Linked DNA regions of Homo sapiens. The protein of the gene in region 2 purifies or fractionates together with the protein of the main gene of each other region. This does not show direct contact. Each region holds a gene or a part of one and is shown on either strand. Other genes may lie near its edges.

Region 1 (3,944 bases), on a different chromosome or scaffold from region 2:
AGGGGCTGGCAGTGGGCTGGGATGGTAGAAACTTCTCTCTCTCTTAGTCACCTCTCCCTCAGACCCTACTTCTGTTGATGGGTCACAGAAGGGGTCAGATAACTTAGTCTCATCACTTCTGATTTAGGAAACTTTTTCCGGAGCCTGTGGGGACCTTATGCTGGCTGGGCCCAAGCGGTGAGTGTACCTAGGTGTCCTCCCTAGGTTTCCTCTCCTCCAGCCCAGACCCAGTGGACTCTTCCACCACCGCCCCAGGTGGCCCTAAAGGACTCTCCAGCCACCCCTGTCCCAACCCCAGTGGATTCTCATTGCCTTCGGCCCTGTTCCCCAAGGACTCTTCCACCTCCCAACACTGTCACTAGTCTCACCAGCCCTGACCCCAGTGTACCCTCCTCCCCACACAGACTCCACCCTCCTACAGGTGCTGTTCAGTGCCGACCTGCGCCAATCCCGCCATGCTCAGGAGCCACCAGCAAAGCGCAGAAAGGGTTCCAAAGGGCCGGAAGGCTAGATGGGGCACCCTGGACAAAGAAATTCCCCAAGCACCTTCCCCTCCATTCCCCACTTCTCTCTCCCCATCCCCACCCAGTCTCATGTTGGGGAGGGGCCTCCCTGTGACTACCTCAAAGGCCAGGCACCCCCAAATCAAGCAGTCAGTTTGCACAACAAGATGGGGTGGGGGATATTGAGGGAGACAGCGCTAAGGATGGTTTTATCTTCCCTTTATTACAAGAAGGAACAATAAAATAGAAACATTTGTATGGAAAATGCAGTGAGGAGTGGTAGGGAAGCAGGTGAGGAGGGGACAGGGCAGAGAAACTCCCGGTTCAGGGAGGGAAGGGGAGCAGGCTGCCCCCAAGCCCTCCCACGCAGAGGATCATGACCCGAGGTCCAGGGCCCTAGAGCTGGTGGGGCAGTGTGGGGGACAGTTCTGTGCCCGGCTCCACGCAGCAGTCTCGACAGCAACAGCCAGCTGCCGGCCCTGCATGGGAAGACAGAACAGAGGTGGCCGCAGGGGCAGGCCCTCCACTCCAGCCCGGGTGCACCTTTGTGGACCACCCATGCCCTTCTGCAGAGCCCGCTCCTCACCCCCAGCCACTGGTGTCAGCAGCTCCCCATGGCTCGCCGTCTGCCCCTGCCCCTCCTGGCTGGTGCCCAGCTGCAGTTTCCTCATGTGCCGCACCACAGCCGTGGCATTGAAGGCTTGCTGGCATTGAAGGCATTGAAGGGAGAGGGGAGAAAGGACTTTTGAGAGAGTCAAGTCATGGGGCAGGGGCGCAGTGGGATTCTTGCAATTGTTCTGTTATTTTCATTCAGGAGTTATTTTATTAATTCCCCTAAAGCCCCCCAAAAACCTCTACAAGGCTTTATTATATATTTACACACACACACGCACATATGTTAGATGTATGTGTATCTATATATATAAATAGAAACATAACTATAATTCATATTAATATGTAATAGCAAACACTATAGCACTGTATGTCAGGCACTGTTCTAAGCACTTTACGTAGTAATTCATTTAATCTTCATGAAAGTCTTTGAGGTAGGTACTATTATCATTTTCAAAGGAGGAAACTGAGGCACAGAAAGCTGAAGTAACTTGCTCAGGTGTGTCTCTATTCAATATCTCCACCTAGGTGTCCCACACACCCCTCAAATTCACCATGTCTAAAACTAAAACCATCCCCCCAAAACATGTTTCTGTCCCTGTGATAACCATCTCAGTCATGGTACCACCACCATCCATTCTGTTCCCAGCCACAGTCTTGGGCCAGCCCTTGACATCTCTTTCCCCCAACATCCATTGCATCGTCATGTCTTGTCAGTTTCACCTCCTAAATGACTCCTGGATCAACCACTGTTCTCTGCCCCCTGTTGCTGCTACTGTGGTTCCAAACCCTTACCATCTCCTGCCTGTATCTCTGCCACAGCCTCCTAATGCGTCACCCAGTCTTTACTCCATGCCATTCTCTGCATCCTGAGAGCTCTTTCTTTTTTTTTTGAGGTGGAGTCTCACTTTGTTGCCCAGGCTGGAGTGCAGTGGCGCGATCTCAGCTCACTGCAACCCCCATCTCCGAGGTTCAAGTAATTCTCCTGCCTCAGCTTCCCAAGTAGCTGGGATTACAGGCACGCACCACCATGTGTGGCTAATTCTTTTATTTTTAGTAGAGACAGGGTTTTGCCATGTTGGCCAGGATGGTCTTGAACTCCTGACCTCAGGTGATCCAACCACCTCGGCCTCCCAAAGTGCTGGGATTACAGGCGTGAGCCACCATGCCTGGCCCTGAGAGCCCTTTCTATGCAGCAAATACTTGCCTAAGATTCTTCTGGGGCTCCTCAGTGCCCTCAGGATCAAGTTGGTGCTCCTCTGTGGCATATGAGGCCCTAAGAGGCCTGGCCCCTTACCTGCTTCTCTAAATTGGGCTCCTGCCTCTCAGTCCCCTCAGCCCCTCCAGTCTGGCCAGGCTTAGCACTTGCACTTCCCGGAATGGCTATAGACATTATTCCGCTATGCCTCACTAATTCCTACTTAACTGACAGCTCTGTCAGGTCATCACCACTTTTATGACCTTTCTCGGACCCCATAGGCTGGATCAGATGCCTCCTGAAGAATTACAGACTTCTTCCTCTAGACTTGGAGGTGAGGGACCCTCTCTGGAATAGAGAAGGTGTTGGGAGTGTTTGTTGAATGAAAGAGTGAATGAATGAAGTCCTTCAGTAAGGATCCCTAAGCAGTTACTGTGTGCCCAGTGTGATGCCAGGTGCTGTGCAAGCTGAGCCTGGGTAGGGATGGGGAGGAGTCCTGGGGAGGCTGGGACCAGAACTAGGGATATGGACTCACCTTCCACTTGCTCTTGGCAAAGTTCTTCTTGATCTGCTCACTCACCGACTGGTGGATATTCTTATCTAGAGCTGTATCTCCTGCAATCCTAGGATGGGGTTATGTGGTGGGTTGCCTATGAGGGCAGAAGCAGACCTGAGGGCCCCAAATCCCGCCCCAGCTCACAGGTTGTGTGAATTCTCACCATGGGTGCTGCAAGGCCTGCTCACAGGTGAATCTTTTCTCTGGGTCCTTCTCCATCAAGTGCCGGATGAAATCTTTGGCTAAACCCCCAAGACAAAAGCAAAGATAATGACAGCATGGTACTGCCTGTGTACTCCCCAAGAGCATACCCACTCCCTCAGGTCTGGCCTGGCATCAAGACAAAGAGGCCAAATCAGTCCATGCCCCACCCCACCCAACCTATGCTCTTCTTCAGGCCCTCCCACCCCGTGCCTTCCAGCTCTTTCCTTTCTCTCTTAAGAAAAACATATGGCCGGGCACAGTGGCTCATGTCTGTAATCCCAGCACTTTGGGAGGCCAATGCAGGTGGATCACGAGGTCAGGAGTTCAAGACCAGCCTGGCCAAGATGGTGAAACCTTGTTTCTACTAAAAATACAAAAAAAATTAGCCGGGCATGGTGGTGGGCGCCTGTAATCCCAGCTACTTGGGAGGCTGAGGCAGAGAATTGCTCGAACCCGGGAGACAGAGGTTGCAGTGAGCCGAGATTGTGCCACTGCACTCCAGCCTGGGCAACAGAGCGAGACTGCGTCTCAAAAAAGAAAGAAAAAAAAAAAAAAGTTGTTCTTGACTAATCTCAGTGCATTCACACTGATGATAAACGATAGTAGCTTCACAGGTTTGCTTCTTAATAGGGGGCACAAAAGGAGGATGAAAATGTTTATGGTGGTGTTTTAGACATTAGGGTGTCAATAGGGGAGAGGTATTTTCAAATAGACTATGTTTGAAGATTGAACAAATGAATGCCTAGTTTCTCACTCTGGGAGCCAAGCAGAAGGAAGTACCCAAGCAGAAGGAAGAAGGGGTAGGGTGTCTGGTCTCGAAGACAGCTCTTTGTGTGGTGCTGGAAAATCCGACAGAAGGAAGGCAGGAGGG
Region 2 (5,063 bases):
GGACCAGACATCCCATCACAGGTCCCGGGACTGAGAGAGGCTGCAGTCCCCGAACTGGATCCCCCAACCTGGGCTGGTCCCCTAAAGAGACAGAGAGACAAGGAGTACGGTAGAGACGCTGGTGGCTGAGTAGAGCCAGTTGGGGTCTGTGGGAGGTGGTAATGGGTGGAGCATTTTCTCAGAGGCCTGGGTTGGCAAGAGGTCTTACGGAGGCAGCCGACCAGGGGCCTCAGGACCCCTGTGACTATGCGCGGTTCCCATAGGGGAGGGAGAAATTTCTGGGGACTGGGCGGGACCTCTGGAGAGTAGCCTCTGGAAACCCAGGAGGCAGGCAAGGCCTTGGCTGGAGTCGGGGGGTCAGACCGAGAGAAATCAGGGGCCCTGGGTCCAGCAGGCTGGGTCCCACCTCCATCTAGACAGAGGGAGCCGGCAGGCGGAGGCCCAGACACAGATTCCTCTAGAAGGCGGGTTAGGGGAGGGCTCTGGTGCCAGGGTCCCCACTGGGAAAGTGCCGAAGCCGCAGGGCCAAACTGTCTGTGCAAAGGAGTCAGTCACCCAGGATGGAACCATCAGTGAGAGGAGACAGTGGCAGGCCCAAGGGCAGCCAGAGGTGGTTTGTTCCCGAGCAGAGGGAAAGCCAGATCCCCAGATGCTGGGCTTCCAGTAACAGAGACACCACAAGACCATAGCCCCCTTGCCTAGGATTTTTGGGGAAAGGGTTGAATTCACAAAGAGAGATGTGGGAGCTTTTGAGGGGTCTTCCCAGCCAAGGAGCTAGCAAGGCTGAGATGAGGGTAGGTGGGGTAGAGTGTGGGTTCTCCAGGCCATGGGCTGTCGGGCAAACGGCCTGACCATCCGGGGAAGAGGATGGGGCTGGGGTCCAAAATGTATTAAACAGGGCACAGGGTCCCACCAGTCAAGAGAAGACGCTAGCTGTGAACTGGCTGGGGCTGGGTGCTGCTGTGGGAGCTATCTGGGCTGCTTCTGGCCATGAATTATAGCAGAGCAAGGTATGTGGGTGGGGACTGCCCAGGAATCAGGCAGGGTTTGAGGGACAGCACCTGCTGGGGTCACCACCCAAAAAGGCCCACAAAGGAAGGGACTTAATGTCTTTGATGGGGAAGGAGTGCTCATTAACCAAGGATGGGACAGGGTGGGTGGGAAGATGGCCCCTGGTGTCACAGAGGGGAGGGGGGGACAGGAGGAGGCCGGATGGCTGGACTCTTGGATCTTGGAGAAGACAGGGACGGGAGGAGGAGCAGGGGCCCCCTGAGGAAACCCAAAGAACTAGGGTGGGCCTCTTGGCCAAAGAGATGAAGGAAGGTCCCCCTAGGAGTCAGAAGAGAGGGGCTCTCAGGTGCCAGGGTCCCTGAAGTCACCATGGGCCAAGGAAGCAGATGGCAGGGCACTGGAGGCTGATGGGATTTGGGGAGCTGACGGAGAAGGCAGGAGGACGGGCCCCAGTAGACAGTTCATGGGGATGAGGCCCTGGAATCAAGTGAGGAGGCAGCTGGGCCTGGGGGCCCAAAACAGGCAGGGGACTAGCAGATAGGGCCAACATGGCAGGTCCCACCCAGCCAGCCAAACAGTGGAGCCTTGAGTCTGGGTGAGCGGGTACCCAGTAGCGGGACAGGGAGGCATGTGGATCAGAGCACCCCACACACACCTGCCTCCATCCGAGCAGAAGAGATGAATTTGTCCAGCTGGCACCGCAGGAAGTCCCTCTCTTCCTCCAGGTCCTCGATGCGCTTCTGCAGCCAGGAGTTCCTCTCCAGAGCCATGTGCAGCTGGGTCTTGACGCTGTTCATCAGAGCCAGGGCGGAGGACGCAGCCTCCGGAGGCTCTAGGGACACAGCGAGGGTGGGGGGACCAGGTCACACCCTGGGACTCAGGGCTTGGCTTCCCAGCTGACTCCAGTCCCTCCACACCCCCTCAGCTCACCCTCGAAGTTTCTCCGAGAGGGGCTCAGACTGTAAAAGATCTGTGGGTCTAGGTGGGGTGCCTCATCGAAGGGAATGGAGATCTCGAAGGTCTCATCGTCCTTCACTGGAGAGGAGAGGCCCCGGGTTACCCCAGAGAATTCCCCGGGCCTCTCAGGCCACCCCCCAACCACGGCAGCCTGGAGCCGACCGCACTGGGACCCAGGGTAGGGAAGGGGACCCAGCTTCCTCACTTGTCCGCCTCCGACTGCTCCGGTCATTCATGGCGCGGCTTCCTACGGACCCCAGCAGCCGAGGGCCTCAGGGGCACTGGACAGAAACGGCAGCCACAAATGGAGAGACGCAGATGGACTGGAGGGTCCATCCTGGGGGAGGTGAAGTGAGACAGGAGGGACCTTCTGGCCTGGACCCCTGGTCTGAGGGAGGAGGGAGCCTGGACCCCAGGACTGAGGCAAAACGCGCCTGGGCTTCAAACTCCTGGGCTCCTGGAGTCAGGGGCAGGGGGCCCAGCCGCCTAGGTCCTGGGGGAGAAGTGAGCTGGGGACGTGGGCTCCTGGGTATCGAAGGAAAAGGAAGCTGAAGCCCTAAATTGCTGGGTGCCCCAAGGGGTCGCCTGACCAGGGACACCTAGCCTGAAGGGGAAGGACCCTCTCTCATCGCGGGCCACTGCCAGGCCTAAGGAAGAGGCAGGTGCAGGGGGAAACTGCCCCAACTTCCCAGGGTAGGAGGAGGTCCAGCCCGTGCGCGCTGCCTCCTCTACCTTCGGGGCCCCCACACCCCTCCCCCGCACTCGCGTGGGCGGGCGGACCGTCCCCCGGTGGTGGGGGCTGGGCGCGTGCGCAGTACGGGGAAAGGTCACGCGTGGGGGTGCGCCCCCCCCGCCCCCGCCCTTTGTCCCGCGGGTGGGAGGGGGAGCGGTCGTGGAACGATTCCAGCGGGAACATGCACTAGGGCGGGGGTGCAAACGCGGCCACCATCCCCCGCCCGCGGGTGCCCGGGGTCCGAGGGGCCGAGGCCCCCCGCGCTCACCCACCCGCTCGCGGAATCCGGCTCGGGGACCGACGGCGGCGGCGCCCATGCCCGGCGCCGGGGAGCGTCTGCAAAGTGTCACGGGGAGCCGAGGGAAGCGCCCACCCACCCGCGAACAGGCGGGGCGGCAGGGGAGCGTGTCGTGGAACTGAGCGACGGAACGGGCAGGGACGCGGGGACTCGCCCAGTCGGGCCAGGCTAGCGCCCCTCGTTGAAGAGTCCCCGGGTCCAGGTGAGGCCCGCCGTTTGCGGCAGAAGCAGAGGGTCTGCACTTGCGCGATAGCCCCTTACAGCACTCCCCCGCCCTCCCCGAAGCTCAGGCAGGGAACATCACGAAATTCCCATCCTGGAGAGCTGGCGAGTCTCCGGGGGTCCCCGGATTGGGTGGCGGTGTGCCCAATGGGCCCAGAAGGCAGGAGAGTGTTTGAGACACCGAGAAAGTTGGAGCGAAAGGAGAATCTACTTTTAACGCTCTCTCAGGAACTAGCCAGCGCGGACCCCTCAGAGCTCCCCTACCTCCTACAGCCAGACCCCAAGGTTCTCAGGGATGTGGGGGCCAAAATCGGGGGAGTTACCCCTCTCCCGGAAAATGAGGGCCAGGAACACGCCACCCCCATCCCCATGTTGGTAATTAAGAGCTGGCTTTGGAGCAAAGCTAGATTCCAGTCCTGACTGTTCCTGCTCCTCCCCAGCCTGTTAACTCACCTGCAAAATGGGGAAATTACAAGCCCTTCTAAATTTATTGTGAGGATGCAGTGATGCGACACACAGAAGCTCAGCCCAGCACCTGGCCATCGTCAGGGCTGAAGAGAGGAGCGCTGCTGGTATTATTTGAGGTCAGATGGTGGGGTATGATGGCAGCCTCTGGGAGGCTCTTTCCCACTCTGGGGAGTATGAACGGAAGATTTGTTCTTCCTCCCAAAAAAACAGGTCGGAAGAGCAAATGAGGCCTAGCACAGTGCCTGGCACAAAATAGGCAAGAAAAATGAATGAATAAGCAGATGTTTATTAAGCTTCAGGCTCAGCTCCACCTGCCTCTCCTGTTCACCAGAAGCATCCAAGCTCTGGACTGTGGCCAGCCCTTATAAGAGCAAGGTCTTAACCCGATGGAGGGAGAATCTAAATGTCTGCACCGCCTGCAAAGCTGTGACCATGATCCTCCCCTCCCCACTTTACAGATTAACTGCAGCCTGGTCCAAAAATTCCAGGGGGAGCCATCTGCCCTAGATTGGTCTTTTCCAAACTACAGGTTCATGGGTGGAGAATTCAATAGAATAGGATGAAATCAGCAGTTTAAAAAAATATTTAGCCGGGCGTGGTGGTGCACACCTGTAATCCCAGCTACTCAGGAGGCTGAGGCAGGAGAATCGCTTAAACCGGGGAGGTGGAGGTTGCAGTGAGCCGAGATCGCACCACGCTCCAGCCTGGGCGACACAGCGAGACTCCGTCTCAAATAGTAATAATAATAGTTGATGGAAAAAAAAATGCACAAACTAAAGCTAACTATGGTAAAGAAATTTTTGTGGGCCGGGCGCAGTGGCTCACGCCTGTAATCCCAACACTTTGGGAGGCAGAGGGGGGCGGATCACGAGGTCAGGAGATCGAGACCATCCTGGCTAACACAGTGAAACCCTGTCTCTACTAAAAATACAAAAAATTAGACAGGCATGGTGGCGGGCGCCTGTAGTCCCACCTACTCAGGAGGCTGAGGCAGGAGAATGGCATGAACTCGGGAGGCGGAGCTTGCAGTGAGCCGAGATTGCGCCACTGCACTCCAGCCTGGGCGACAGAGCAAGACTCCGTCTCAAAAGAAAAAAAAAAAAAAAACTTTTGTTTCGAGGCCTAGTGCCCTGAGGGAGGCCGAGGTGTGTGGATCACCTCAGGTCAGGAGTTCGAGACCAGCCTGACAAACACGGTGAAACCCATCTCTACTAAAGGTACAAAATTAGCTGGGCATGGTGGCACACGCTTGTAACCCCAACTACTTGGGAGGCTGAAGCAGGAGAATCGCTTGAACCCAGGAGGTGAAGGTTGCAGTGAGCTGAGATCACGCCATTACACTCCAGCCTGGGTGACAAGAGCGAAACTCCGTCT
Region 3 (4,343 bases), on a different chromosome or scaffold from region 2:
AGGTGGGTGCTTGGTTGGTTTCTACAAATGCAGAGAAATGTAGACTTTTTACGGTGTTAACTTTTTGTCTTATTAATCTTTTTTAAAATCATTGGTGCCTACTTATTAACACATGAACAAAGAGCAATTAACAAAGCACCCAAGCCAGCACATGGCTTCTTGCTTACGTTTTCCACGGTGTGGTTTTTACATTCAGACATGATTTACATATGTTTTTCCTCATATAAATTGTTTTTAGTTCATATGTTTTTCCTCATATAAGTTGTTCTTAGTTCATGTGACAGAATTAAACGTATCCCTATGTATCAAGGTATTCTAAGACTACCTTCAGGGACCATTTGTATAGTTCATTACTAGAAGTTTCTCTGAACATGTAGAACACTGAAAAAAGTATTTACTTTTTTTTTTTTTTTTTTTTTTTGAGACAGAGTTTCACTCTTATTGCCCAGGCTGGAGTGCAATGGCGTGATCTCGGCTTACTGCAAACTCCGCCTCCAGGTTCAAGCAATCTCCTGCCTCAGCCTCCCGAGTAGGTGGGATTACAGGCATGCGCCACCACGCCCGGCTAATTTTGTATTTTTAGTAGAGATGAGGTTTCTCCATGTTGGTCAGGTTGGTCTTGAACTCCTGACCTCAGGTGATCCTCCCACCTCGGCCTCCCAAAGTGCTGGGATTACAGGCGTGAGCCACCATGCCTGGCCAAAATAAAAGGTATTTTAGGCTGGGTGCGGTGGCTCACACCTGTAATCCTCGCACTTTGGGAGGCCAAGGCGGGTGGATCACCTGAGGTCAGGAGTTCGAGACCAGCCTGGCCAACATGGCGAAACCCCGTCTCTACTAAAAATACAAACATTAGGTGGGCGTGGTGGCAGCCAACTGTAATCCCAACTACTCGGGAGGCTGAGGTAGGAGAATCACATAAACCCAGGGTGTGGGAGGAGGTTGCAGTGAACCGAAATTGTGCCATTGCACTCCAGCCTGGGCGACAGAGCAAGACTCTGTCTCAGGAAAAATAAAAAAGTATTCTACCCCAGAATCCACCCTGGAACCTTGGAGAATTGGTGTAAAAGGGACAAATGACTGAGCCAGTTGGAGAACCAGTGGCTTGAGGGAGCCTTAGTGGTAGACACAGTGATTTTGGAGCCTCTTTGGGTCTAACCTTGGAAAGTAAAATCTACCAAGTTATGATCTGCTTTGTATGCTAGAATATTAAAAATTTATTTGTGGAAACATCCAAATTATTTTCTAAGAGACTAGCATGTAACAATTGAAGTCAAAGAAGGGCTGTCTGCTGCTGGCAAAATCCAGGAAACCCTTCATTCTCTGGGTGATTTAGATTCAGGTCCATTGCCACAGCCTGTTGGCAAACTGGCTGCGATCTAACTCTGGTTTGGATTGTCAGGTAGCAGTGTCTAGGTACTGGAAAGAAGTTAAAGCAAAGTTTATTTTTCCTTTGTACAAAGGTTAAAAACTCTCACTCAACATCTTATTTTGATATTTGGGTTTTTACCATAGGAGTATCCAACCCTTACAACCTTCTTCGAAGGAGAAATAATCAGCAAAAAACACCCTTTCTTAACTCGCAAGTGGGATGCAGATGAAGATGTTGATCGGAAACACTGGGTGAGTAAATCTGATCTGTGCTGGGTCATCTAGGGGCTGCTAGAGAATTGAAGAAATGCTGGGAGCCAGAGACCTTGTCCCTTATTGAGGATTACTGGGGCTTTGCAACCAAGTAAAAGGTTGCACTGCACACAGACCTCAGTTGTTCCATCTTCCTTATGAGGACAGTTTAAATACGATCTGACCTGCTGCTTAAATAGCAAATGGTTGTCTGATGATAGCAACCCCAGAGTTCCAGCCAGAACTCTGCTCAGCTATCAGAATCTTAACAGTGTCCCCCCATCCTTCCCACCTGTTTGTCCATCTTCTGTCCACTGTTCCTTTCAAATCACCTCTGCTTGGGGAAAACCCTGTGAAACATGCAATGATGACCTCCGGCTTCGGGGCTGGCATGAGATGGAGATGATGTTGTGGGAATCTGCCTGCCCACTGGCTTATCAGGGCAGAGCCACATCATTTCTTTTTATCCTGGCTGCTGACAGACAAGTATAGTCTTGTCTTAAGTACACCACTATAAATCCTGCTGCCCCCCTTTTTAACTGTCAAGTGTAGAGCATTCTCACTCAGCAGTAGTGAATGCTTCAAGACAGTTAGTGTCCTGGGATCTTTTCATTTGTTGTCATATAAGTACCATGTCTTCAAAAATCAGTGTCTCGGCTGGGCGCGTTGGCTTGCGCCTGTAATCCCAGCACTTTGGGAGGCCGAGGCGGGCGGATCACCAGGTCAGGAGATTGAGACCATCCTGGCTAACACGGTGAAACCTCGTCTCTACCAAAAATACAAAAAATTAGCTGGGCGTGGTGGTGGGCACCCGTAGTCCCAGCTACTCTGGAGGCTGAGGCAGGAGAATGGCGTGAACCCAGGAGGCGGAGCTTGCAGTGAGCCGAGATTGTGCCACTGCGCTCCAGCCTGAGCAACAGAGTGAGACTCCGTCTCAAAAAAAAAAAAAAAAAAATCATTTTCTCAACCTAATAGCCTTTTGCTTTAGTTGACCATGGTGATGGTGAATTTTTGTTTAACATTGAAGAAGTTCAATGGGTTTACCCTCCATAAACCAACCAGAAATGGCTGTGTCAGTAGCAAAGATTCTAGAACTCGTTCTTCCCATTGCCTCTCACACCTGGCTATCTAAACTCTCCCCTGGTTCTGGCACAGCAGTCTGTGGAGAGAACTCCCGCAGACCCTTGTCTTGAGTTCACCTCACTAGAGATCAGTTGCTTTGCTTACTAATGTTTTTTATTTGTTTATTTTATTTAAAAAAAATTTTTTTTAGAGTTGGGGTCTTGCTCTGTCGTCTATGCTGGAGTGCAGTGGCATGATTATAGCTCACTATAGCCTCAACCTCCTGGGCTCAAGTAATCCTCCCACCTCCGCGCCCCAAGTAGCTAGAACTACAGGCACGTGCCACCACACTGAGCTCATTTTCTTTTATTTTTGTAGAGACAGAGTCTCCCTATGTTACCCAGGCTGGTCTTGAACTCATGATCTTAAGTGATCCTCTTGCCTTGTCCTCCCAAAGTGCTGGGATTATAGGTGTGAGCCACTGACCCAACCTGTTTTTTTGGTTTTTCTTTTATGGGGGTTTTTGTTTTGTTTTGTTCTGTTTTGTTTGGTTTGGTTTTGAGACAGAGTCTCAGTCTGTCACCCAGGCTGGAGTGCAGTGGCGTAATCTCGGCTCACTGCAACCTCTGCTCACTGCAACCTCCGCCTCCCAGATTCAAGTGATTCTCATCTCTCAGCCTCTCAAGTAGCTGGGATTACAGACGTGCACCACCGTGCCTGGCTAATTTTTGTATTTTTAGTAGAGACAAGGTTTCGCCATGTTGGCCAGGCTGGTCTTGAACTCCAGGCCTCAAGTAATCCTCCTGCCTTGGCCTCCCAAAGTGCTGGGATTACAGGCGTGAGCCACCATGCCCAGCCCCAAGCTGTTTTTTACTTGAGTAAAAAAAGGAGATCTATCAAATACTGAGGTTCAGTTAAATTTAAATTTAAACTTGAGCTTTTTAAAGCGTTTTTTGAATTCTATACATTTTGATTGTTGTAGCAAATGGACACTAAAAACTAGACAGTCATTTGTGTCTCTCTGTGATACAAGAGAATGCACAAGACCTGAGTATCCAGAAGGTTGGGGGAGCCCAAGTGGTGTATGAAGGTGCTGGCCACCAGCAGGTGGAGTTGGAAGGGCTCCCTAGTACCATCTGCGCCCACCCCTGCCCAGGGCTAGGCTCTTCCTGCATGGCTTGCTGCCTCACGAGATGGCTCCTTCCTCTCCTGTACAGTCCCAGAGTAGAAGGTTCTTCCTTGTAGTAAACCACAGCCTCTCTCCCATTCAACTCTATTTTCCATTTCATATTGGTCCTGCAAAAAGCAAAGTCTTTGAGGCCCAGTGACACTCAGTTTTAGGCTAGGTTGACTACAAATTAAATACTTGGAAAGCAACTCTTAATTTTCCCATTGACTTCCGTTAGAACATTGGAAGATATCTGGATCTGCAGACTCTGCTAGACTGGACTGAAACATTTTGGGTGAGAGAGGAACTAAGAAGGCCACCCTTGGTACTGGCATGTGAGGTGTGGTTGAGCCAGGGAGCTGAACCTATGGAGTGCTTCCTCCTCCAACAGTTTGTGGCTGCTTTTGTAGTACTCAGCATTTCCCCTAACTTTCACCACTCATGGAGGACTCCCAGGTTCCCACGTGGGACTCCTGGAGCTCTGTACTGC
Region 4 (4,343 bases), on a different chromosome or scaffold from region 2:
TTTGTGGGACACATCACGTTTCTGCCAAGTGCTACAGCTGAAGCCCATATTCATAGAAGCACCCTGACAGCCCTTCTCCAGCAACTTCCAGAAAACAGAACCTGAGCACTCAAAGCTGCATCAGCCCATGTGGCCTTGCTCCCAGAGAAGCATCTGCCAGTTTGGGCATGGAGGAACAGAAAGTGGGCAGGGAATTCTCCTTGGCTCCTTAGAAGGCAGTGGGAGCCCAGGGAAGCGTTCGGCCCCAGTGCAGCCTAATTGGGAGGGAGGGATGGGTAGAGGCTGGCTGGGCTTCTCCTTCCTCACCCTCATGCAAGGTGGCTGCCCCTCTGGCTCCTTCAGAGCTCTTCCCTTCCAAGTTCCTACTGAGAAATAAGAAGGCACAAAGGAAAATCAGCCACCTCCTGGAGGTCACTGTGGGCCACCTGCTTTGCTAAGAGCCAAGCACAGACCCCTGCATTCTCCCTGCAGGAGAGCCCACCCGGCTCAGAAGAAAGCAATTCCGCCTGTGGGGAGGAGAGGAAGGGAGGGGAGGGGAGGACACACGGTGAGGTGGAAGCAGCGAGCAGAGCTTCTCCATCCCTCCTCTCCTTCCCTGCCAGAAATGCAATTAAGCAAGTGGCCCAGACTCAGCCGCACAGACAGCGCTTCCTGCTGGGGGAAGTCAAAAGGGCTGTAGCAGTGGGAAAGGGAGGTCATCGGGCCCCAGATCTAATTAACCAACCTGCCTTGCTTTTGACGTTGCTGCATTTCCTCTATTAACATTAATGATGGTTGGTCTGAATGCCCAAGCATGGCCAGAAGCTTCCCTCCCCACCACCCAGTAGGTAGCACAGCCTGTCCCTGGGACCAATATCCAGTCTCCGTGGCAACCGCCTCCTGAAGATGCTTTAAAGAGATCTGACCCTGTCAGAGTTGTTGGGAGCTTCAGAGGAGGGAAAATGGAGTGTGGCGGATTCATCATTAAATATTGAAGCATCAAAGTCCTCTGAGACAAAAGAAATATTTTGTCATGCACCAGGAAGGTGGAGGCAGGCTTAAGGGCTGGCCTTGGGTGGTTTGGTTCTACCACAGGGTTTTCTTCATCCCTTTTGGGGAGGAAGTGGAAGGGGCAGCTCTGAGCTTCTTGTTTGAGCTGCAGAGTGGTAGACGCAGGAAGCTGGCATGCATTTCTAGGTGCCATGGGTCTTCACTGCTGAAGCAGTGACAGAGAGAAAGGGAATTGCCCACGGAGTGAGGGAGGGGTGAGCAGAGGAGGACTGCAGAAGTGACACTGGGAAAGCTCAGCAGGTGACAGGAACATTAGTCTGGAGAGGCCAGAGTCCCCACATCCCAGCACCACGCAGATTCCCTGCCCTGTCTCTCATCTACCTTGGGCGCTAAGCAAGGTTCCCATGGGCTCTCCCAGCAGCCAGGAGAATGCATCTGCCTTGCCCTCCAGGCCAGGCTAGATGCACTTGGAGAGACCTGGCCTCTGGCACACAGGGCCTGGGAACACTGAGCAGCCCAGGATAGGACATCGTTCCTCCCGAGTGTCACAGTGTGACAATCCCAAAAAACGAGGAACCAAGGGCTAAGGCAGGCTGACGCTCCGGAGTCCGCTGCTCTCTGTGCGTCACAGGCAGGAAGTCCAGCTACCTGCAGCCACTGGGGGGCATGGTGGGAGCCAGGCCCTCCAGCTCGGGGCGGCGCGCCTTCCTCCACGCTGGATTCATTTGTTTGTGGGAGGGAGGGCAGCACAACTTTGACAGTCCCATCTGCTCTGCCTTTGGTGACATCCCAAGGTGAGGTCAGTATTCTCTGCCCTCAAGGCCCTCTCAGAGGTCTGAGAATTTTTGATGGATCTTACAAACCAAAACCAAAGAAATCCAACAGAAAAAAATACCAGAAAATATTACTATAGCCTGGACTATTTTAGAGTTTATGACACTCAGCTGTCCAGTTACACGGTCTGTATTCCACAGGGATATGGACAACATGCCCTCACATACACACACGCGCACCCACTCCCACCCTCTGGCACCCATCCTCCCCTGCGCTGTGCACGAGGGAGCAGCCCAAGAGGCGCTGTCCTCTCCGTGGTGCTGTGGACGGAGCTGCGGCTCTCTCCCGGCTCTCTCCAATGCTGGGTTCCATTCCAGCTGCACTCCCAGAGCTGGGTCCTGGTGAGCAGCAGAATTCTTCGGGCTCCTTAGGCAGCTTCCTCATGGCCGGATGGTCCAGTACTGCTTCCCAGCTGGCTCTCCTGGGAAGTTCCTGGACCCAGGCTGGAATCTTTGCAGTGGCCTCAAAAGTCCCATGAGTCCAGCCACCTTAGTCCTGCCATTGGACTTTGGGGGTCCTGGGCCAGGGGACCAACCATCCCGTAAGCCAGAGGGTGGAAGAGGTAGAAGCTGTGAGAGAGAACCAGTAGGAGGCAGTTGGCACCCCCAGTGCCTCAGCTGAGGGGCTTTGAATTCCATTCCTCCTGCTGGAGCTCCAGAGAAATTCCCCATCGCCAAGCCCGGTTCTCTTTCACGGCCTTGTCTGTCTGAGTCCCACTGGGGCACACTGTAGCTGGAGAGCTTAGTAGATGCTGACTCAATGACAATCATGGAAAGGGCTCTTCCCAAGAGGCCCAGGAGGGCAACCCTTCTAGGGGTCTTGTCATGGGCTATTTGGCCAGGGGTGTTTGTCAACATGTGAATGTAACCCTCTTAGGCAGGCATGTGCTCACAGGCCACAGGCCCAGCACCAAGGCCAGGGACTGGGGAAGCGGGGAGCCTTCCAAACAACTCTCCCTTTCAGCCACTCAGCCACACACTTCCCATTCCCACCCTTCCCACCCCACCCGTCGAGAGCTCTTCCGGCAGGGGGCCACAGTGACTAAAGAGGGGTGCCCTGTCCCCCATTGCCCCCCGGTTCCCCCCTCCCTCACCCGGAGAGCTGTTCTGACAGGGGGCCATGGTGACTAAAGAGGGGTTCCCTGCCCCCCATTCCCACACTCCCCCTCTGAGAGCTGTTCTGGCACAGAGTCACTGTCACTAGAGGGGTACCCTTCCAGGTGCGCTGGGATGGCACAAAAGCTGAACCACCGGCAGAAGGGGAAAAGGCAGAGTTAAGCCCTGCTTCTCCTACCTGGCTGCACATTAGGATCACCTGGGGGACTCTGGAAACCACGGCCCCACCTGGGCTTGGGTGACGCAGAACCTCCAGGCATGGGCACTGGTGGTGTTAAAAGCACCGCAGGGGATTCTCGAATGCATCAGGGCTGAGGCACTGCTGAGCCCACACTGGGAGGGCATGTGAGGTGCAGAGATGCTCACCTGTAGGCAGTTCCCAGGAGCAGGCTCAGGATTCCCGCCACATGTATGCCCCTCGCCAGGGGCCATGAGGCCAAGCCCCAGGCACAGAGCCGCAGGAGGGTGTCCCACAGAATGCCTAGAGGAGAGGAGAGAAACCTGGAGTCAGCCAGGCAGGGGGTGACTTCTGGGCTACAGAAGAAGGAGGCACTCCAAGTCAAGGAGCAGAGAGTCACTCCCAGCACTGCTGCCCCACAGTGGCCTCCCGTCAAGGAGCAGAGTCACTCCCAGCACTGCTGCCCAACAGTGGCCCGCCCTCCACCTGCTCTGTCTCCCAAGTCCAGGTGGGTGGCACTGACCTGTCAACATGCTTGAGAAGAGCATGGCTGGGAAGTAGTGGTGGAAGTAGAGGACCCGGCCCATCAGGAAAAACGGGAAGTAATGGAGTGTCCAGCCGAGCAGGACCTGGCCGCCTCCTCGAAGCAGGACCTGGGACAACCCTGGGCCCAAGCAGCACAGCCCAGTCAGAAGACAAGGAGCGGGCAGAGATTCCAGGCTCTGGTCCAGCTCTGCCCCTTCCTTGCTGTGTGACCTTGAATATGTCATATCACCTCATTGGACCAACCCAAACCACGCTACAGAAACTGGAGAGGAGCAGCTGGGGCTCGAGAGCTCTGGTCAGGGCCCAGCCTAGTGAGGCCTGGGCACCAATGGCAGGTGCACCAAGCACCAGCAGGAGGCAGCCCAGCCTCTAAAGAAACCCTTCTGCGCCTGCAGACAGCTTCACTCCCTACTTCCACCTCCCACATCTTTGCTGCCACACAGATCTTTGCAGCGGCAGACAGGCGCTAAGGTGAGGTTACAGGTGAGGATGGAGTGAGGAGGTGTCTGGGACTATGACTGTTCAGACAGAGAGCTGCAGAGGCAAAAGGGCCTGTGTGACTGTCTCAGGTGCTGTGGCCCATGGTCTGGCAGCCAAAGTTACCAAGAACAGCACTGGGATGGGAACTCAATAACCCTGGAGGCTCCTCTCTAGCCCATGAGAGGACAGGGCCATGGAAC
Region 5 (3,676 bases), on a different chromosome or scaffold from region 2:
AGCTGATCCTATTAATGAAAAAACATGGACTTGGACAGGATAATGTGCTAATTAATATATTAATGGTCTTCAAGGCCTAAAACAAGTTTTGAAAAGGGGATGATAGTATTTCCTTGGTCAAGATCATGTCTTTTTATTTAAAAACACTTATTGCCTATGTCACAGAATCTCATTTTTCTTTTCTCAGGTAGGGTATTTTATTTATTTTTTATATCATTTTCCACAATTAGTAAAATACTAAAGGTGTAAATCTCTGTCAGTCAAATCAAGCATTAGTGATGCAGACAATGTGTATGTGTGTGTTTGTGCACAGGAGGCATGCCTCTGAGGCTGGATAGTTCCGGGTAGGAGTGTTAGTGATGTCAGCCCTGTCCCCACTGGACACATCGTCATAAATGCCATGAGCTCCTCTGTCTCTGTCCCAACTCCAAGGCACAAGTTATGAACCCCTCCTTTATTGGTCCTCTTACCTAGAGGTTCTGAGTTCTGTTTTGGGATAGAAACAAACACTGAAGATTTCTATCCCACCAGATTCCTATTTGTATCTGATGCTTTTATTTTTATTTCAAAAATATGATTTTAAAATTTTGGGATGAAGACCGGGCTCGGTGAAGATGTTGACACCTGAAAATATCTTCAGCAATTACGTTTTCCAAGTAATTGCTGTCAGGGAAATAGCAATAAGATGTGCAGTTTACTTATGATTCCCCCCAATAATCTATTTCAGGGCAAGAAAGCTTCAGGTAGTGGAGATTTCACTTTGAAATGGCATAACAGGCTGGGCGTGGTGGCTCATGCCTGTAATCCCAGCACTTTGGGTGGCTGAGGTGGGAGGACTGCTTGAGGCCACATAGCAAGACCCCATCTCTAAATAAAAATAAATAAATAAAAATTAGAAAAAGAGAAATGACATAAGACTCAGCAATTGACTATGTTTCCAATATGACCTTTATTGAGCAAGTACTGCTGTGACGTTTAACATCGATCAACATAAGATTGCAAACTGTGCATGTCAACGAGGTTCTCCCATGAACAAAAGTCCATTTTAAATGCACCAGTGAGGTAAACATAATTATTCATATATAGCTTTCTTAAGGCTGAGTTCTGTGTTTCGTTTATTGTTTTTGGCTCAGTTGGTACTTTGCATAATACATCTCAAGACATCCCCCCTTAAGTGACCCCCTTCCAACAGCTTAGGAAATCGGCAAATTTCCCAGGTACATACAATATCATGCATTTGAATCCCCCAAAGACTGAGGAGGGAGCACCCTGAGCTTGCATGCAGTCCCCTCATATTGCACAAAGTAAAATACAATGTCTGGAGCCCCCATGGGAGAACCCGTTCTGTTTTGAAGCTGCCAATCACATGCATTTTGAAATTGTCATATGGCTTAACCTTTTGCAATGGACTCAAATCTTAGTCACTCTGGGTGACTTCCTTTACTATGGCGTGTGAAGTGACTTTTTCTACCTTTTTAGTAGACACTAGTTTCTCCTCAAAGGTCTCTTCATGCTCTTCAACCTTTTGAGTGACGGTTACAGATTTAGTGATGTATTTGGTAGCACCATCTCCCCCCTCACTGGTGATTTTTTCTACCGTTTTGGTCACCACCACTTTCTCCTCACTTTTATCACCCCCCTTCTTTTCATCTGCTGGGCTCAAGTCTAGGCCATTGGTGACAACGCCTTTCTCCTCTTCCCTCCCACTGCCTTTTTCCTTGGTCTCCTGCTCTACCTCCTCTTTTCCTTCTACCTCCCCATTGACAGCTATGTCTTCCTTCCTGGATCCCTTGGCACCTTTATCACTCCCTTCCTCCTCACTTCCTCCCTCTCCTCCCGCTTTCTCCTTCTCTTTCTCCTGCTGCAGTGGCTTCCCCTCTTCTTTGGTCTCTTTCTCCAAGTGCACCTTTACCGATTTGGTGATGGTGACCACCTCTGCCACAGCTTCCTCCTTTACAGGGGACTCAGCTTTCTTCTTCTCTGGCACATCCTTTGGTTTCTCTTCCTTTTTCTCTACCTTCTCTTCCTTGGGAGCTTCCTTGACTTCCTTTTCTTCTTCCTCTTTCTGTTCACCTTTCCCCACTTCTGCTTTTGACTTTGCCTCTTCCACTGGTGATTTTGGCACAGGAGATTTGGCTTTCTCTTCCACTGGTGATTTTGACACAGGAGACTTGCCTTTCTCTTCCACTGGTGATTTCGGCACAGGAGACTTGCCTTTCTCTTCCACTGGTGACTTGGGCACAGGAGACTTGCCTTTCTCTTCCACTGGTGACTTGGGCACAGGAGACTTGCCTTTCTCTTCCACTGGTGATTTTGGCACAGGAGACTTGGCTTTTTCTGGCTTTTCCACCTTGGCATCTGCCACCAGCTCCTCCTTGGTAGCCACTTCCTCACTCTTTTCCTCCACTTTCTTTTCCTCTTTAGCTTCGGCTTCCTCTCCTTCAGCTTCAGCTTCTGTTTCTCCTTCTTCCTGCTCACCTTCCTCTTTTTCACTAGAGCCTTCCTTCTCGGATCCTCCCTCTTCGGCTTGGTCTGACTTAGCTCCCTCATCTTCTTCCTCCTCTTCTTCCTGGCCTTCTTCTTCCTCCTTTTCCCCTTCCTCTTCTTTAACTTCAGGTGCAGTTGCTTTCACTGGAGACTTTTTGGCAGCTACTTCTTCTTCTTCAGCTTCGGGTTCCTCTTCCTTTTCTTCTGCTGCTTCTTTCTTCTCTTCCTTCATGGAAACGGCCAATTCCTCTGTAATGGCTGTCAGGGCCTCTTCCATTTCTGACTTCTCATCCTCCACTTTGGTTTCCTCTATGATCTCCTCGACAAATTTGTGTTGGACCTTAAGCTTGGGAGCTTCCACCTTGGGTTTCTGAATCTTACTGGATATTGTGATTGGGGGTCGGTGTGTATACAGTGGCCCAGTGATGCTTCCTGCAAATGTGCTAAATCTAGTCTCTTCACCCTCCAGGAGTTTTCTAAGGAGAAAATCCAAGAACATAAGACATAGTAAAAATTTCACTAGGCCTTCTGAGCTTCATTACATTCTGGGTATTGTGGTAGCTACCTTTGAATAAATAGAATTACATAAGTAGAATATTCTATGAATTCACTATAATACCTGCTATCACTTACTGGCATATTACATTATACTCAGTGACAGAGAAAGATTCTCCTGGACTGCCAGACAGTTGCCCCCTACAATGACTAACCTTGCCCAATAGTCCACTAACCACACCCAGCTACTAAGTCTTGGCCCTGCAGTAGAGATCCATTAGGTACAACATGAATATGCTGAAAAACTTGTTAGTGGCCAAATAGCAAAAAACAAAAACAAAAACAAAAAAACAAAAAGCCATAAACAAAACGCCCCCAAACTCCAAAGCCAAACAGCCTTTCTGAGAGTAGTCACTTTCTTAAACGTTTAGATTTTCAGGTGTATCGAGTTATAAATTTGTTGATAATTTTTATCATAAAGTGTCTATTTAATGTAGTTATTCAGCTTTCCTGAAAAGAGAGATAGCTCTGTAAATGCAATTTATTCTCGTTATATTATAACTACCTTATTGGTAGCAGAAAAATTTTAATCAACGATTTTGTCCTTTGCGCTTAGTCAACAGCAAGGTCACTTCAGTTAATAGACCTATAACCTATCTCACTATCTATAAAACGATCATATATATTTGTGTCT
Region 6 (4,416 bases), on a different chromosome or scaffold from region 2:
CTTCCTAACTCCCACGATTACAGCCTCTTTAGAAACTTTACCATGTTTGTGATAGGAATAGTAAAGGAGGCCTCCTTGGGCCCACCTCAAAGGAGGCCACTTTTACAAGGATCAGGATAGATTAAGTCACTGTTCACATTATTTTTTGGTTTGTTTTTTGGGTTTTTTTGTTTGTTTTTTGTTCTTTTTTTTTTTTTGAGATGGAGTTTCACTCTTGTCGCACAGGCTGGAGTGCAATGGCACCATCTCAGCTCACTGCAACCTCCACCCACCAGGTTCAGGCCATTCTCCTGGCTCAGCCTCCGAAGTGGTTGGGATTACAGGTGCCCGCTGCCACACTCGGCTAATTTTTGTATTTTTGGTAGAAACAGGGTTTCACCGTGTTGGCCAGGCTGGTCTTGAATTCCTGACCTCAGGTGATCTGCCCTCCTCAGCCTCCCAAAGTGCTGGAATTACAGGTGTGAGCCACAGCACCCGGCCTACATTCTATCTTTTCCTTTCCACCTGGCCACCTTCTTCCCCCATCACCGTAACAACACACATCTCACATTGATCAGTTATGGTGTCATCAGGTGTGATGAGAAGAACAAGATGAAATTGTAGCCTTCTTCCACGGTTCTGAGGCATGTGAAGCATAAGACAGCCTCATCCCATGGGCTCTTGGCCCCTTCCATGCACCTTCTAATCACCTCAACACCATTTCCTCGGTCAGTTTTCTTATTTGCTTCCCAGAACCCTAAGTGTTCTCCCTAGTGTTGTGCCTCACTGCATAAAACCTACATGGCAGTAAGAAAAAGTAAAGAATGTAAGACCTATCACAACTATATGCCAGTGACAAAAGAAAACATAGAATGTCAGCACATACCAGGGACTGTGGAATGTCACTGAGCTGCAGCAGGTTTAAGTGCAGGAACAGCCCTCTGAGAGATCCACAGGAAGAAGAATATAGCCAGAGTAGATTTCAGGTGTCTACCCACTGCAGATCTCTTCCCCTTAAGGTAGGTGCCCACCTGGGCTCACCCCAATTCCCTCTGGAGATTTACTTTTTTAGACTTCCCCAGCTATCATCATTGAACCATAGGGTTTTTTACCCCAATTACAATTCTGAGATGATGGCTAACAGGAATTTTGTGATTTCAGGGCAAAGATGGCACTGCAGCAGTACCTGGCATGATGGGAGTGCCCCTGGGCACCTGCGAGCATCCCACCTCCTTGTTTAAGGAAGTACAGGAACCAGCCTCATTTGATTCCTTCTATTTGCACAAGTCACCTTGGACTGCAGGGAGCTGTTTTGCAAAAGCAGTTTAGTAGGCTTAGATCTCAAATTCATCTTGAGAACATTTTTTTGAGGTAGTAATTTCCTCAGAAGACTCTTGTGTTTTGTTTTGGTTTTTTTTTCTGAGCTACTCGGACTCTTTATTAGAACAATCAATCATTTTCCTTTGGACCTACAATTTTTGCCTATGCTGCAGCCACTTTGTGAGTGAGAATGAATATGTCTGTGTGAACACACAGGCATGCGTGTGTATGTGCACGTACATGGGCCAGAATGAATGGATGTGTGTGTGTGAGGGATACCTCAGATTTTTCTTTTCTTATTTTGTGTGAAAATCTCTTTTCTACAGATTTTCCAGGGTTTAAGCATTGCTTGCTGTATAAAAAACTTTACTGAATTATATACAGTTTGAATGAAATGTTATTTTAAAAACAAAACAATTGTTAAGTGTTCCATAAAGGTTATGTTGAATTTTGGTCAGATGAATATTTGTAAGTAAAAAATATATGCATTTCTGAACCTCAACTTACATAGATTTTCTTTATATAAAAAAAAAGAAAAAAAAAGAAAAAGTTGGCTATAGTTGGCCTGATTAACAGGCACTATACATGGTGCTGTGCAAAATAGTAAGCTAGCATCTTACTGCCGTCAATATTAGCAGGTACAGAGCCTTTTTTCATCCTAATTCAGTAAGTTCTCAGGCTTCCAAGTCAAATGGAGAAGTAAAGTGAGGCAACAGATTCACCATAGGCTTTTTGAAGCATCAAAGGGAAATATAACTACTGATAGTGAAAGCCCAGCCATGACCCAGATGGGCTTACCCTTGACAGGAACTGGGGACCAAGAGCCTCCCAATTGCCCTAACTCCTGTCATTGGTATTAGCAATATCTGGCCAGATTTAGAACCAGTCATGGAAACTTGTGCTCAAACTAAAAGTAGGTCATCACTTCCCAGAAACAGAATACCTTGTGCTTCCTGAAACAGCATATATCACTGTGAAACTAAAGAATATTCTACAGACACCCCTGTAGAAAGAAACAAAGAACAGGATAGTTTAGAAAGCTTTCTGTTAGCTGTATTCAGCAAATTTCATACTAGTTGCTCAGGACTGCTAGTTGGTATGCTTTTGTAAAACGAGATTGAAATTTAATAAAAGATGCAACTAAAATCTTTCCTGCATGAAGCTAAAAGCACTCAAGTTGAGAGAGGGGCAAGGGAATCTCCCCAGGATGACTGAAGATGACTTCTTTTTACAGCAAGTACTGTTAGCCTTTCTGCACCCCTTAGCTTGGCCCCTGCTCCAACTTCTGGGTCAGCAGCAAGGTGAACTCAACAGAAGTTGCTCTTGACTGTTTGAAGGTAGAAGCAGCCTACCTTTTCTCTTTGCTAAAAGAAGGTCAAAGGCTTCGCAACCAGGATGCAAGGTCTGCGGTCCAGAAGCTTGCGGTGAGTGTGTGCCACTGATGGAGCTCCAAGCCCACCCACCAGCCACTCCTGATGGGGTTGCTCACACTGCAGCTGCCCTATCACCACCCTGCACGTTCCTTGGAAGATTTAAATGTTTGGTTGCAAATGAATGTTTTAAAAATGTATTTAATGCAATTTTTCCTGCTCTCAACATGACCACCCAAGATTCAAACACAGAGACTTCCAAGTTACTATTTTTTCAGAACATCACCGATTTTAAAATCTGTCACAACAGGACTTGGTTTTGTGCAGATATCAGAGTGCTAATGTGAGAAACCCAGTTAAAAGAAAACTTAGTTTATTGGGAAGAAAGCCTCAGGCCCACTCGTTTCTAGAACTGTGAAAATATCCTTGGTTGGCATTTTTAACACAAAACACTATAGTGTTGGTATTAAATAGTACTAGGTAAATATAAAGAAACCAATAATGAATTGCTGAGACAATCTTGAACCCAAATAGCATTAGAAAGCTGAAGGCCCAATGAAATAACACTTTCACACTTAAACTCTGTGGATAAATTTTGCCTGTGGGTATAAACAGATGGTCAAATTAAAAATGCTTTACTATAATTAACTTTTCTGATTTGAATGAAGGGAAATGTATTTATTGAAACAAAGCTGTTTGCTGCTTTATGCAGGTGCAGTGTTCAGTCAGCAAGGAAGTGGGAAGAGTGGACATGGTATTGTGTCTACACCCAAGTTCTTAACTAAGCTTCTCGCTCTAATACTGCATTCTGTTTCTCCTTTTGTGCCCTGATTGTAATCCAAAATTTATGAACTAGAAAAGAATGTCCAATTTAATAAGTTGCATTTTTTTTTCTTTAAGCACTTTATTCAGAACAATACATGTTCTTCTGGTAGTGTTTGGATAATATGATTTTAACACATGCTAATAAAAGCCAAGAAAAATCATGGCAACTTCTAAAAAGGAGTCTGTTTTCCAAATGTCTAGAACATTAGGAAACATCAGAAGATAATGTGTACACGCTTTTGGAACCTGTGATTCTTGGTAAATGAAGGGCTGGGAAGTGGCTTTGCATTTCAGAGTGGGACCCAGTGCCTTAAGGTAAGTGTGGTTCCCAGAGGCATCTGCAGCAGTCTGGGGACCCCTCTCTTTTTGGCCTCCTTCTGAAGGCCAGCAGACCCTTCACAGGTGGCCACTCCCAGCCACAAGATATCCCATCCCCAATATCATGTCCACCCCCTCCATCCTCTTCTCCTTAGGTATGCCCCATCTCCACTACCACCAGCTTGCATCTCCACTACCACAGTATGCAAGAGCTTGCTATCCCTCTGCAAGGACACACAGGTGCTCTTCGTCTACTACGCACTGCCACCTTTTCCCATCTCTGAATTGTAGGCACATCTCCTATCTCAAGGCCTCACTGGAAACAAAGCCAAGGACACCTGCGCCAGAGTGGCGGGAGGATGATGAGGTGGCTAGCAAGAGAGGGAATAATCATGGTGGGAACCTCTGAGAGGACCCAAGGTAAGGCGAAGAGAGTAGGAGCAGGGCCAAGCAGGCCCCTGTTTCCCATAACTACCACAGGAAAACTTGGAAGTGAGGTCTAAGGAGGGAAGGGGGACTCCCACCCCAGATCTTGATGGAGGGCTGACAGAACGGTTCCAATTTCTTGCCACCTGGGGTAGGAACTGGTGCTGTCCCCATCCTG
Region 7 (4,343 bases), on a different chromosome or scaffold from region 2:
CTCTGTGGAGGAAAGACAAGGCCTGGTCACTGGCCTGCCCAGGGCTTGGGCCCAGGTCAAAGTTCCCTTGGGGGTGGAAGGAGGGGGCAGTGGACAGATTCTCTTGGAACAGAGTGTTCAGTACCTCTGTGTAAGTGTGTCCCAGCCACCAGGCCATGGCCCTGAAGTCATGCCAGGAACCTGAGGACCTTAGCCCCATGTAGAGCGCTGGGCTGGCCTGGGCCTACTGCCATGGCCTAGGACCCATCATGAACTCAGCTGGGCAGACAGAGGTCAAGGTTTAGGTTCAACCATGGGAGCCCAGGAGTCCTATGAGTCACCAGAGAGGGCCTGTACAGAGCTTGCTGCCCCAGTGTGGATAAACATCAGCTCTTTCTGGGGCCAATTGGGGTGGGGGTTGGGAACCACCCAGGTAGCTATGGGCTAGCTTCTGTTTTTGTTAGATCCACTCACCTAGGCCAGGCATGGTGGCTCACACCTGTAATCCCAGCACTTTGGGAGGCTAAGGCGGGCAGATCACCTGAGGCCAGGAGTTCGAGACCAACCTGGCCAACATGGCAAAACCCGTCTCTACTAAAAATACAACAACTAGCCAGGCGTGGTGGCACGCACCTTAGTCCCAGCTACTCAGGAGGCTGAGGCACGAAAATTGCTTAAACCCAGGAGGCAGAGGTGGAGATTGCTGTGAGCCAAGATTGTGCCACTGCACTCCAGCTTGGGCTACAGAGCAGACTCTGTCTCTAATAATAATAATAAATAGATTCACTCACCTAAAATGGCGCTGTTGAGGGCAGCACACACAGGTTCCCTCTGGATGGGGTCAAGCTGCTGGCCAACTGGGCAGCTCCAGGGGTCTGAGTATGCCAGCAGGCTGAAGGCATCCTACAGGACAGGGCATTCTTGAGAGGACTGTGGCACACACCATAGCTCACCCTGCTACCCGTGGCTCCAGAGGGAGACAGGGCCCTGCATGATGCCCAGCCTGGAATGTGGGGTGTAGGGTCGGGCAGGGCTGTACTCTCCCCAGAGCCTAGGTGTGGAGGGCACATGTCCAGTGGGCCCAGATGCCCCACTTCCCTCTGCAGACCTGGCTGGAGCCCACTCTTTCCTGCTGCCCCCTGGACTCTCCCAGAGCCACCCTGCCCCCAACACCAAATGGGGCCTGCTCTGCATGAGGCCCGGCTCATCCTGTACCTGCAGCATCTCTGTGTGGGCCAAATTCTTGCCGTACTCCCGGCCCAACTGCTCACTCAATGCCTGCAACTCGCGGCCAAACAGAATGATCCTTTCTGTGGCAGCCTGGTTGCCCCCGCAGAGCTGCCGCCGAGGATGCCTGTCATCTGCATCCAGAACCCAGTGGAGAACGTGTTAGGAGGGGTGAAGAGGGAAGGGCAGGACTAGGGTGGGGCAGGAAGGACCCCGGGTGGGCTGCAGCTTCTGCCAGAGGCAGGCAGGGCTGGGAGGAACAGGTGAGGCAGCTACAGTCAAGGCGTTCTTCTCTTCATTCACCTGGCGCACAGTCTAGGATTTAGGGAGGACTTGGAAGTTGTCCCTCTTCCCAGCCTGCACAGACGCAGGGTGCTCATTAGGGTGCCCATGCTCTCGAACACCCTCCAGCCTCAAACATAGGTGGTCTTGGCACAGGCCAGGGCCTTCGTACATTTGGAGCCACCTCAAGGACCCATTCACAATCGGCTAAGGAGGCTGTGGACCAGGTCTGGCTGAAGCTTCTCAAGATGCCAAAGCCTGCCTACCCCAGCCCCTCCCAGGGGAAGAGGGCACCCAGACTGCACACTGCCCTCAAAGAATAGCACACCGGGCCGTGGCTCTCACCCATGCTGGACTCATCCGTCTGCAGGTCCTCATGCTTGTAGGCACCATTAACAATGCGTGTGGACATGCTTCCTAGCACACCGTTGGGGTAGTGCTCTGCCTCCATCTCCATCTCACTGTCGCTGTGGGGAGGGGTTGAGGTGGGAGTTGGCCCAGGGGGTGTGGTTGGAGCAGCCTGGTTGGGCCTCCTTTCAAGCTGTAGCCATGGGTTGCTGTGGGTGAACCGAGGACCCCCAGGAACATGAAAGGACAGCTCAGGCTTCCAAGTCTTCAGCACTTGGCCCCTACTGTGACACCAGCTATCCTCAGAGGCCTGTCACCTGATTCCCACCCTTGCCCCAGTGCTGCCTCTGTGATTCTCCCCTCCCTGGCCCTCCTCTGAGTTCACACACCTCTTCTACATATCCCCCAACCTAATGACTGGGCCCCATGGCCCCCATGGGCAGCTCTGTGGCCTTGGTTGGAAGCCAAACTCAGGTCAGCCTTGAGGTGTACCTGGGGATGCTGAGAGCCACCTAGAGCTCTAGCCTGCGGCTTAGCTTCCCCTGCCTGCCCAACCTGGCTGTCTACAAGCCAGAGCCAGGGAAAGCTCCCTCATGATGGACCCTGAGGGTTCTCACAGGCCCGGCCTCTTTGGAGGAGACCACATCCTCAGCCTGGCATCATTGGAGCCTCTGGAGAAAGCCAAGGCCAAAGAAAGTGCAGCTAAATCGTGGGGAGGGCCAGAAGCCAGAGCTGATGTCTGGCCCGGTGGGCCAAAAATTAGGACTCCAGGCACAGACCTGAGATGGAGGCTGGGGGTGAAGGGCAGGGCGCTCAAAGGACAGACTGCAATGGGCCCAGCTGGCATAAGGCAGAAGGCAGAGGAGGAAGCAGAGCAAGGCAGGCACCTGGTCTCCTGGTTACTGGTACTGCTGTGGTGCTGGGACTTGGTGGAGTCTGTTGAGTTGGACTCGGAGTAATTGACGGAGGATGGGGAAGAGGACGAGGAGGAGGAGGAGGACGAGGATGAGGAGCTGGGTGCAGGGTATTTACTGTGGTTCTGTTTGCTCTTGGTGGACGCGACGCCATTGCTACAGCTGGGACTGTCTGCTCCTAGAAGCCAGGGTGACAGTCAGAAGAGGAGGGGCAGCTTCCCATGAAATGAAGCCCCAAGAACAACCACAGTGGTCCCATTTCCCTTCTCCCAAATCCAGCAGTGAGCCCTGAGCCCAGCCCAGGAAAGGGTATGTGGAGTGGCCTCTCTCCTCCACACCAGTTCTTCCCAGAGCCCTCTGGAGAGTGGCTGACCTGTGTTGTGCATGTGGGAACTACTGGGGCCATGTCGGGGACTGAGGCTGGGGGAGCCAGGGTAGCTGTCCTGGGACTTGGGGCTTCGGGAGCTCAAACTTCGGACCTCACTGTCCGTCCCATTCACCATCTCCACAAACTGCCGGCACCTGTGGAGGGAGCGGAGCAATAATGCTCTGGTTGTGGTCCAGGTTGACGTTCCCACCACCAGCTGAGAGGGGCTGGACTCTGGGGGAGCTGGGGGTGCCCAAGACTTACTTGAGCATGAAGAGGAGGTTGGGGTTGTGCTCCAGCAGCCCTGGGTAGAAGCGCTGGGTGGTCTCGATGGCCTCGCCCACACGGCCCTCCAGCACCAGCTTCTGGATCTCTGCAGGGTGCAAGAACACAGCAGTGAGCGAGGGCTACAGGCCTCTCCCACAGCCACACACCTGGGATGCTGCCAGCCTCAGGGTAGGGTCCGGCTCAGAGTGCCTCGCCAGCTTGAAATGCTCACAGGAGAGGAGGCTGGAGAAAGAACCTGACTGCCCAGCCCAACAGATCCTGGTTTCTGCCAAGTGTCAGAGAGTCCTCAAGAATATGGGGAAGATGGAGGGGAGACTCTCAGCCCAAAGGCAGGAGGGTAAATGTGGAGGTCTGCTCCTGCGGGGCACATGGTGCCAGGGACCTGGGGGCAGGGTAGGGCCCCAGCTGGGGCAACATGATCTGGGGATGGGCACCCAGGCAGCTTGGCGGCCTGAGTGGCTCCTCTTCAGACAGACTCCTCTCCTTCCAGGCCTCACAGGGGAATGGCAATGGAATCACACTGGTTTCTGACCAGGGCTCTGGCTGGTGGTCTTCAGGGGCTGCAGCATGCCCCCTGCTGGGAGAGGAGGCCATCCTCCTCATGCTGGCACCTCTGATGTTGACACCTCTCACGCCATCAGCATCTTGCTGCTGCCTTTTCGCTCTTGCCGTGGGGCCTGGTGCATCTCGCTGGGAGCAACTTCAGAGTCTGAGGCTCTCATTCATAGATCCCAAGTCTGGGATCCCTTTCCGTCTGTCTGGCTGAGCACAGCTTCTCTGGGAGACAGACACGTGCACATACAGAAGAGACAGCAGGCTTGGAGAGGGGTAGGCAGGCACTCACAGACACGCATATCCACACCCACTTGCCCTCATTCTCCTTTTCTCCTTCTAGCTCCTCACTGGGCTCCTTTTCCTCTTTTCCAACACCCCTCCTT

The links.
Region 1: the proteins of CCDC106 (region 2) and CAMK1 purify together in Homo sapiens (affinity purification with mass spectrometry; 3 studies listed by BioGRID and IntAct, with this or other methods). This does not show direct contact.
Region 3: the proteins of CCDC106 (region 2) and GID4 purify together in Homo sapiens (affinity purification with mass spectrometry; one large-scale study listed by BioGRID and IntAct). This does not show direct contact.
Region 4: the proteins of CCDC106 (region 2) and POMT2 purify together in Homo sapiens (affinity purification with mass spectrometry; one large-scale study listed by BioGRID and IntAct). This does not show direct contact.
Region 5: the proteins of CCDC106 (region 2) and NEFM purify together in Homo sapiens (affinity purification with mass spectrometry; 3 studies listed by BioGRID and IntAct, with this or other methods). This does not show direct contact.
Region 6: the proteins of CCDC106 (region 2) and ARMC8 purify together in Homo sapiens (affinity purification with mass spectrometry; one large-scale study listed by BioGRID and IntAct). This does not show direct contact.
Region 7: the proteins of CCDC106 (region 2) and RANBP10 purify together in Homo sapiens (affinity purification with mass spectrometry; one large-scale study listed by BioGRID and IntAct). This does not show direct contact.

The regions. Positions count from the first base shown.
Region 1 is NC_000003.12:9,756,640-9,760,583, forward strand, and holds the end of CAMK1 (calcium/calmodulin-dependent protein kinase type 1), read right to left. Parts: intron 3,112-3,944; coding exon 3,033-3,111; intron 2,937-3,032; coding exon 2,849-2,936; intron 2,648-2,848; coding exon of another isoform or gene 2,548-2,647; intron 1,208-2,547; coding exon 1,090-1,207; coding exon of another isoform or gene 983-1,089; coding exon 900-982; coding exon of another isoform or gene 878-899; 3' UTR 708-877; downstream 1-707. Other genes in the region: OGG1 (N-glycosylase/DNA lyase), read left to right, coding at 128-177. UniProt on the Homo sapiens protein: Calcium/calmodulin-dependent protein kinase that operates in the calcium-triggered CaMKK-CaMK1 signaling cascade and, upon calcium influx, regulates transcription activators activity, cell cycle, hormone production, cell differentiation, actin filament organization and neurite outgrowth.
Region 2 is NC_000019.10:55,646,188-55,651,250, reverse strand, and holds the start of CCDC106 (coiled-coil domain-containing protein 106), read right to left. Parts: upstream 3,040-5,063; 5' UTR 2,205-3,039; coding exon 2,174-2,204; intron 2,047-2,173; coding exon 1,942-2,046; intron 1,844-1,941; coding exon 1,667-1,843; intron 1-1,666. UniProt on the Homo sapiens protein: Promotes the degradation of p53/TP53 protein and inhibits its transactivity.
Region 3 is NC_000017.11:18,052,612-18,056,954, forward strand, and holds part of GID4 (glucose-induced degradation protein 4 homolog), read left to right. Parts: intron 1-1,515; coding exon 1,516-1,623; intron 1,624-4,091; coding exon of another isoform or gene 4,092-4,343.
Region 4 is NC_000014.9:77,275,089-77,279,431, forward strand, and holds part of POMT2 (protein O-mannosyl-transferase 2), read right to left. Parts: intron 3,782-4,343; coding exon 3,641-3,781; intron 3,421-3,640; coding exon 3,306-3,420; intron 2,394-3,305; coding exon 2,288-2,393; 3' UTR 1-2,287. UniProt on the Homo sapiens protein: Transfers mannosyl residues to the hydroxyl group of serine or threonine residues. Coexpression of both POMT1 and POMT2 is necessary for enzyme activity, expression of either POMT1 or POMT2 alone is insufficient.
Region 5 is NC_000008.11:24,916,348-24,920,023, reverse strand, and holds the end of NEFM (neurofilament medium polypeptide), read right to left. Parts: intron 2,964-3,676; coding exon 1,418-2,963; 3' UTR 931-1,417; downstream 1-930. UniProt on the Homo sapiens protein: Neurofilaments usually contain three intermediate filament proteins: NEFL, NEFM, and NEFH which are involved in the maintenance of neuronal caliber.
Region 6 is NC_000003.12:138,294,719-138,299,134, forward strand, and holds the end of ARMC8 (armadillo repeat-containing protein 8), read left to right. Parts: intron 1-1,140; coding exon 1,141-1,174; 3' UTR 1,175-3,655; downstream 3,656-4,416. UniProt on the Homo sapiens protein: Component of the CTLH E3 ubiquitin-protein ligase complex that selectively accepts ubiquitin from UBE2H and mediates ubiquitination and subsequent proteasomal degradation of the transcription factor HBP1.
Region 7 is NC_000016.10:67,726,557-67,730,899, forward strand, and holds part of RANBP10 (ran-binding protein 10), read right to left. Parts: intron 3,491-4,343; coding exon 3,382-3,490; intron 3,273-3,381; coding exon 3,124-3,272; intron 2,929-3,123; coding exon 2,724-2,928; intron 2,046-2,723; coding exon of another isoform or gene 1,956-2,045; coding exon 1,834-1,955; intron 1,341-1,833; coding exon 1,195-1,340; intron 883-1,194; coding exon 771-882; intron 3-770; coding exon 1-2. UniProt on the Homo sapiens protein: May act as an adapter protein to couple membrane receptors to intracellular signaling pathways.